2 linked regions of the Homo sapiens genome follow. The protein of the gene in region 1 interacts with the protein of each later gene in a biochemical or structural test. Each region holds a gene or a part of one and is shown in the gene's direction. Other genes may lie near its edges. The genes, in order: PPRC1 and NRF1.

Region 1 (4,534 bases):
ACATGTGTGGGGATGTATAGTGATGCAATATTTCTAAAGGGCAATTTTCTACTGTATTTCAAATACATGCATTGTTTAACTCGGCACTTGAATTTCATGGAAACTATTCCACAGAAAGATTGCACAAAAGTGCAAAGGTACATGTACATGACATATGCAAGGGTGTTCATCATAATAATATGTAATAGTGAGAAACTGTAAACAACTTAAATATTATTTATTTTTGAGAAGAAGTCTCACTCTGTCACCCAAGTTGGAGTGCTGTGGCATGATCTTGGCTCACTACAACCTCCACCTCCTGGGTTCAAGCAATCCTCCTGCCTCGGCCTCCCGAGTAGCTGGGACCACAGATGTGTGCCACCATGTCCAGCTAATTTTTAAATTTTTGGTAGAGGTGGGGTTTTGCCATGTTGTCCAGGCTGGTCTCAAACTCCTTAGTTCAAGTGATTCACCCACTTCAGCCTCCCAAAGTGCTGGGACTACAAGTGTGAGTCACCGAGCCACGGCCAGAAACAACTTCAATATAATTTAAATAACAATACATTCATAAAATAGAACTGGTGCTAAAGGCTCAGTAAATATTTAGCTAGTGAGTGGATTAACATATTGTTACATAAAAAAAGCAAATCACCAATTTGTGCCCCTATATATTTTTCCATTCATAGAAAAAAGCGTCAATGAATACACACTAAAAGTAACAAGGGGTTTAAATCTGGGCAGTAGAACTATAATTTGCAGGCCTACTACTTTTTTTCCTCTAAACAGTCTTGTACTTTTTGAAATAATTTTTGTGCTTTGTAAAAAGTTATTTAAAAATAGCAAATATGAAGTAGCTTTTAAGTGGCAAATGAATGAAGAGTAGAGACAGTGATGGACCGTAGAAACGCAGAGCGGGATCCCTCTTGGCTAGGACAACCAAAGCCTTTCCTAGATTAAATAAGGCATGAAATGTTTTGAGGTTCAAGTATTCCAGGTCGACATATAGGCAGGAGAACACCTGTTGTCTTTAGGGAACAGCAAGGAGACCTGAAACAGCAAGAAACAAATTTGATAGAGAAGGCAACGTAAGTTTCTGAGTAGTAGCAGAGAGGGCGGAGAACGCGACATTTTCCGATTAAGTTTGCAGTACTGCCGCAATATGGGATTAGGTGAGGATTAGCGCTTGGAGCGCAAGTGCCCACTAGGGGGTGGTGTTTCAAAACATATACAGGCCCACTTGGCCCCACTTGGACTAAGGTGAAAGGAACGTACAGCAGGTAGAACGTCAAAGAGGACGTTCCAACAGTTGGACAAGTTAACGACAATAAAATACGCAAATGTTAACTTTCCCCCTAACTGCTGAGCGCTCCCTAAATCGGTATCCCAGTGTAACGCAAAACTAAGCCCTACAGGATGCCTGCAGCTAGTGCCAAACGGTCCCCACTTAAAGGGACTACTACTCCCAGGAACCTTCGCGCGAGGCCAGGGCCTTCTTCCAGGGTGCAAGTGGGTCTCGCCGCACGGCTCTCTGGGATTCGTAGTCTTGCAGTGTCATTCGGGAGTTGTAGTTCCTTTCCCACAATCGGCTGGGCGAGGCGGCGCCAGCGATCAGAGCAGCGCTGGGTGTTCAGGGGCCAAGATGGCGGCGCGCCGGGGACGGAGAGACGGAGTCGCGCCGCCCCCGAGTGGGGGCCCCGGTCCGGACCCTGGCGGGGGAGCCCGCGGCAGTGGTTGGGGAAGTCGAAGCCAAGCGCCGTATGGGACTTTGGGCGCTGTGAGCGGCGGCGAGCAGGTGAGAGGTTGGCTGGCGGCCCGCGACAGGCAGCAAAGCGGTGTGTGCCGGGCGGTGACACGTGGACGCCACAGGAAAGAGAGGAAGCGCCTGAGAGTCGATGCCGGGTGGCCGCGGGAGCCGGGCCGGAGCAAGTGGGCCCTAGGCCGTTTGCTGGGGGTAGGCGGGCAGAGGCAGCGTCTCTACGGCCATTCCTGGGGGACGCCGGAGGGGGAGAGCGGGGTGTCGGAAACATAACCCGCGGCTGGGGGTCAGGGGTTCGGACTTGGGGTCGAAGGCTGAGACCTCCATGTAAGGATGCCCAGTGAGGCTCCCCGAGCCCGGCGCCGCAGTTCCCTTTTCGGAGCCACGTGGGGTTGGGGGAGCAATTTTCCCGGGAGAACTTGTCTGCCTCCCCTCCCCCTCTAGGCGGCCCGGGCATCCACGTGGGTCGGGCTCCTGGTGGAGGGGGGCGCAGGCAGCGGGTCCACGTGGGGGCGGGGAAGGAACGTCCACGTGGCTCCCGTCCCAGGCTGTCGGGCATCTAGTATCGGCCTTGGAGCCTGGCTGACGCGAACTGGGTGTGTCTCCACGGGTCCCGCCATCTCCTGCCGGGGCTGGAGGCCCGGGCCGGGAAGGAAGGTAAGGGCTGCTAGAGTCAACTTTGTTCAGAGCCTTGGAGGTTTTTTTTTTCCCTGCTGCTTGGGTCCGCAACGTCTCTCCACTGCGGATGGTGAAGGACTCTCCAGATGTTGCGGGAGTTTGTTCCCTGCGGATGGCTGAGTGTGATGGGGAGGGTAGAGGGCTGAGGCTGAAGGGTTGTGGAGGAGTGAGTTTGTGGCGCTTCCGTCTGACCGGCTTGGGGTGGGTTGTGAGTCACGGGCATTGGCGTTTTGGTTGCCTTGCAGTCTTGCCTTATTAGTGATTCAAGGGGTATGGGGAGTGTCAACATACACCTGGGACAAGGTTAAGAAAGGGAAAGGGAATCCTCTCCTCACTTTTTCCTCCAGCATCTCTTTTGGGAAGGCATGCTCCTGTAATCTGACACGCAGAAACTGGGGTGGTCCGTACTTAAGGCTCTTCGGATTTTTTGCTGGGGATGGGAAAAGTTGGAGGCGGTTTGAGAACTGTTCAACATGTTCAACAGTTGAACATACACTGGATGAGGAGGATTCTGTTAGATATTTTTTTCTTGGCCTTCAAAAAGTGTTATTGTTCTACTCTACAGTGGAGGGCTTCTTAAAAGTTTCCACCCAGGGTAGAAGGGGCAGGAATTAGTTTGAACTGTTACCTCTCTTAAACAATTAAGCTGAGTCCTTGACAGCATTTTTTGTGTGTTACTAGGTGGGAGTTGGGCTGCAGGCTGCCTGGTAATATCAGGTCCGGCAGACCAATCCAGGCCCTTGCCCAGGGGAGAATGGTTTCTGGGGCAAGAATTTGGGAGCGCTGATCCCTTCTCCCCTACTTTCTCAGAGGTCACATCTTTTGGGGCTGGTGCTGCCTACCTACCAGAGCCCCAGGGTCTAGGCCAGAATCTCAAGGCAATGCCCAGCTCTCTATGAACCATTCATCTTCACCTCCATCAGGTGTCCAGTCAGAGACACACCCTCACACCTGACCTCACCCATCACTGAATTCCCAAATAGCACAGGGAGAGTCAGGAAGGATCCAAGATCCAGCTATAATAGTTAAGTAGTAATTTGGGATTGGAGAGGATCTCATGGAGAGATTGTCATTCCCTTCCCCCGAAAACCAAAGATGGGTATATGTGAGCTGGTCAGTCAGCCAGTTATTTATTGAAATACCATTATGTTTAGGCACAGGGGACAAACTGGTAAACCACATAAACATGGTCTTTATCCCTCAGGATCTATGTTTTAATCAGGATAGACCGATGATAAATAATAATGAATGAGACAAAAGTGCAGGATATTTGGGATTATGTAATTGGCAGTAGTGATCTACTTTGCAGAGTCTGAGACGGGACATTTAAAGCTGAGATGTTAAAACTGTGGAAAACCTTTAATCAGGGAAAAGTGAAGCCCTCAAGGAGGAAGAGAGCATGGCTTATTGGAGAAACCGAGACCTGTACTACAGAGTAGTGGGAGAGGACACGCTGGAGCAGAGGTCTGGTGGGGAAGACAGGACTTTTGTAAGCTATATATATATATATTTTGTTGTTTTGTTGTTGTTTTTGAAATGGAGTCTTGCTTTGTCACCCAGGTTGGAGTGCAGTGGTGTGATCTTGGCTCACTGCAACCTCCATCTCCTGGGTTCATGCAATTCCCCTGCCTCAGACTCCTGAGTAGCAGGGATTACAGGCAAGCACCACCACACATGGCTAATTTTTGTATTTTTAGTAGAGACAGGGTTTCACCATATTGGTCAGGCTGGTCTTGAACTCCTGACCTCAAGTGATCCACCCACCTCAGCCTCCCAAAGTGCTGGGATTACAGGCGTGAGCCACCACACCCGGCCTGTAAGCTATATTAAAGAGTTTAAACCTAATGCTAAGAGCAGTAAAATGCCATTGAAGGGATTTAGGGAGGGTCTCAGGCAGTGATCAGATACATATTTAAAAAGTTTCTGACTGTTTTTGAACCCTGGAGGGAGCAGGTTTGGTGGGTGAAAGCTACTTGGGAGGTTTTTGAAGTTAGAGGTGCTGATGGCTGGCTTACTTTCAGCCTGGGCTTAGCACTCGGATGATCTTGGTACTCTGGGAGCTGTGCTGTTTGGGAATTGAGTGATGGGTGAGGTCAGGTGTGAGGGTGTGTCTCTGACTGG
Region 2 (3,813 bases), on another chromosome or scaffold:
GTAGAAGATAATGAGGGCCCTTGTCCAGATATAGAAGGTTTAAAGGAGAAAGGATTTCAGGTTTCCTTCTGAATTCCTGTGTATGTCGTTAGGACCCCAAATTGTAGGTTTTTTGTTTTATTAAACGATAATTATGCACTTGTCTAATTTTGTTAGGGAACCGAAGGCCAACTTCCCATGATTTAAATACCTGAATTTGCATTGCCTGCACACTGTAGGTTCAACCAAATCTCTGGGTTGTCTTTAGAAGCATTTTATGTAAATAATCACGAATGAGTGACTTGTTTTAAGGGAAATTTAAGCTCCTGTGGTCTGGGATTAAATTTTTATGCCTTTTCTTGTATGGAATAAGGCATTCAGTAAAGTTGAAGAATAATAACAATGAACAGTAATTACTGAAATTAAAATTTTTCCCTGAGTATTTGAAAAGGCATGCTGATTTTTTGGTTTCTGGAGGAACTATGAACTGTCAGTCTTTAGAAACAGTCTACAGTCCTACCTCAACAGGAAGTTAATGTATACATTCAGCTTCTGTCAGATGTCTTTAGACAAGCCTGTTGCTTCATGCTGAAGCAGGCTTATTCATTCACACAGTGCCACTGTGAAAAATTGAAGGGTGAGGGGAAACTCCCTGGGCTGTTGAATTTCACAAATGTCTACTTTAACCTCAAGAGTTTAGATGCGCCCTTTCTGGGCCAGTAATCATCTAGGAAATGGGATATCTGAATTTAGATGTTTGTGTGTGACTGTGTGATGCTTATTAATATGTATATATAGAGTATTTGGAAAATCAATCTTAAAATGCAAATCTTTGATTTTGTAAAAAACATTTCAGGAAATGTTCTATACTAAAATACATTTTCTTTATGTTCTTTCATGTTTTCCTTGATAGCTAAAGCTAGTGTTTTCAGCCTGAGCTTACCCAAATATAATTTTCCATGAATGCTTAGTAAAACAGCAATGAAAAAGGAATCCACTTGTTATTTTAGAAACATTTTATTTAGACCAAGTCCAATGTTTTTTGAGTCTCAAGATACATGTTAATTTTTGTGCCTTGTGTATCATATTTCCTTCCTTATTAACTAGAGGGTGGATTACCCACTTTCTTGGGTTTTCAGTTAGTACTTTTATCCATCAGTTTTCTACTAAGGTAAACAGACTGGAAGATAAATAGTAAAAGGAGGTGAAACAAATGAATTTCAGGTGTTTCCAGGAGATTAAAACCATATTGAGCTATTGGAAACTTTTAATCCTCAAGCAACAACAATGCTTTGTTTGAAGTTATTTTAGTGCAATATGGACAAAACTTGGGAAAGGAATTTTTGACTGCTCAAGAAAAATAAGTGGATTGCTTATACCTTAGAATATATATATATACACACACACATATATATATTTTTTATTTTTTCAAAAGTGCACTTCAGAATTGGGCTAATGTATTTTCAGCCCAACTTAATGCAGTGTAGTTAGCAAAACATCCAAAAGGCTTCATCATGTTGTGGTCTTTAGGCCTAAAATGTTTTAAAATGTGAACATTTATGTGATACCAAGTAAACTTTCTATGACCCAAAGAAGGGCTAGAAATAAAACTTTACAGAGATGTTCTAGTATATTAGAAAACAATGGCTGGTTATGGTGGTTCATGCCTATAATCCCAGCACTTTGGGAGGCCAAGGCAGGAAGATTGCTTGAGGCTAGGAATTCTAGACCAGCCTGGGCAATGTAGTGACATCCTGTCTTTACAGAATATTTAAAAAAACAAAAAAACGAAAAACTAGCTGGGTATGGTGGCATATGCCTATAGTTTGAGCTATTCAGGAGGCTGAGGCAGGAGGATCACTTGAACTTAGGAGTTTGAGGTTGCAGTGAGCATAATCATGCCATTGTGTTCCTGCCTGGGCGACAGTGCGACCGTGTTTCTTAAAAAAAACTAGTTGCTGTTAAGGTAGGCCTACCACATTTGTAATCTCTTGAGGCAAATCTGTGTTGTTTCTCTAAGAGCAGTCACTTAGAAGATAATCTGACAGTAAGGAATGGTCTACTGAATCCCAGATCTGGTAGTCTGCCTTGCCCAATCACAACATAGTTTGTGTAAAACTCCAACTGCTACTGAACCATCAGATAATTTCTTGAGGAAGCCGTTTCTCTTAAGGAGAAGTGTGTGTGTGTTGGAGGGAGTGTTGGTGGGGAGAAGAGGGGTAAAGAGAAGATGATACTAGTAAAATAATCTAGTTTTGTAGGTTGGGATGATCACTGGAATTTTTTAGGGGAAATATTCTCAAAAAAAGTTGTAAGAGCTACTTTTGTATGGGTTATCAGTTTGGTGATTTAGACTATAGTAATTGCATTGTTTAATATGCATTGTATTTCGATTAATTCATGCATGCTGATTTCTGTGGTAACAAATGTGAAAAGTTTGGCTGATGGCTTAAGTGGACATTTTCTTAAGAACTCTTTAAGTGGTGCCTGTTGGGATAAACTATGCCAAGCCATTTTCTGAATCTTCATGAAGAATGAGCTTTGTATGCATATATATTAAGACAGTTTTTTTTAAAAAGAGCATGTATTTTACTGTTGGTAATTGTAAAGTTTTTGCTTTTTAGAACTTTAAGAGTCCGTTTTGTTGCTGCTACTGAATGCTAATGTGGTTAGGCTGGCAGCTAAACCTACAAAGAACAAGGGGAAATGAGGAAATGTCCCAATGAAACATTGCTTAAAACTGTTTGCGCAGTGGACTAGAAATGGGGAGTTGGGGACTAGGGGACCTGATTCTTGTTTTATGTTCAAAGGAGAGTGAAGCATTCTCTCCATTAAGAAATAACCTCCTTAAGTGTATTCTCACTTTGGAGTTTTGCCACTCATTCATTCACCTGACGATGATTAAAGATATACCACATTCTGGGCATGTACTAGGTGCTAGAGTAACAAATCTTGGGCCTTGTCGTGTAGAGCAGAAAGGTATGGGCTCAACTAGCTATGTTACAACTTCTAGAGAACCAAAATAGAGCAAACAAAGAGTGGTGTGGGATTATAGGAGGAGGGAGAAATTCCTTCTAGGGAGAGGAGAATGATACACAGAGAAAAGTGAGGTTAGGGAAGACTTTTCACATAGGGGAAGTTTGAGTAGGACTTGGAAGGGGGAGTAGCTGCATTACTGATGGAGAAGAGGGGCTGAGAGGAAGGGCATCAGTAGTCTGATTTGAGAACTAGCAAGTGGATTTTGCTCGACTTGGAGAATAGTGGAAAGTGAAACTGATAAGGTTGTGGCCATATTGGGAAGAGTTTGTAATTCCATGCTCATGAGTGTGAACTTTATTCTATAGGCATTTAGGGACCATAAGAGGTTTGAGTAGGACATCCACTATGGTTTTTAAAAAGATGACATGTAAAGATTTGACTAGAGACTTGTGAGAGTATTGAATTGTGATGTAAAAGGACATCGATTCTGGGGATAATTTTTACTTCACAGTTGTCAGATTTGAGTGACAATTGAGTAAAGAGTTAAAGATTATAGTGTGGTTATTGGGTGATGATGATGCCTTTAAGATAGGGAATGTATAGGAAGAACAGAATTTGAGGAGGAAGGTAATAGAGTATGACTCCAGATGTGTTAAGATATCTGGGAATCAAGAAAGGTCAAGTAAGTACCTGGGTATTTGGGCTGGAGCTCAAGGGGACATTGGGATAAATTAGGGGATTTGCATTCATCAGTATAATGCCATATAGAAACTGCAGAAAGCCAGGCATGGTGCCTCACACCTGTAATCCTAACACTTTAGGAGGCCAAGGCAGAGGATCACTTAAGGCCAGGAG

Evidence for each region.
Region 2: the proteins of PPRC1 (region 1) and NRF1 form a complex in vitro, tested with the Homo sapiens proteins (one study listed by BioGRID).

Annotation. Positions count from the first base shown.
Region 1 is NC_000010.11:102,131,451-102,135,984, forward strand, and holds the start of PPRC1 (peroxisome proliferator-activated receptor gamma coactivator-related protein 1), read left to right. Parts: upstream 1-1,589; 5' UTR 1,590-1,618; coding exon 1,619-1,771; coding exon of another isoform or gene 1,772-1,930; intron 1,931-2,292; exon of another isoform or gene 2,293-2,392; intron 2,393-4,534. UniProt on the Homo sapiens protein: Acts as a coactivator during transcriptional activation of nuclear genes related to mitochondrial biogenesis and cell growth. Involved in the transcription coactivation of CREB and NRF1 target genes.
Region 2 is NC_000007.14:129,614,677-129,618,489, forward strand, and holds part of NRF1 (nuclear respiratory factor 1), read left to right. Parts: intron 1-3,813. UniProt on the Homo sapiens protein: Transcription factor that activates the expression of the EIF2S1 (EIF2-alpha) gene. Links the transcriptional modulation of key metabolic genes to cellular growth and development.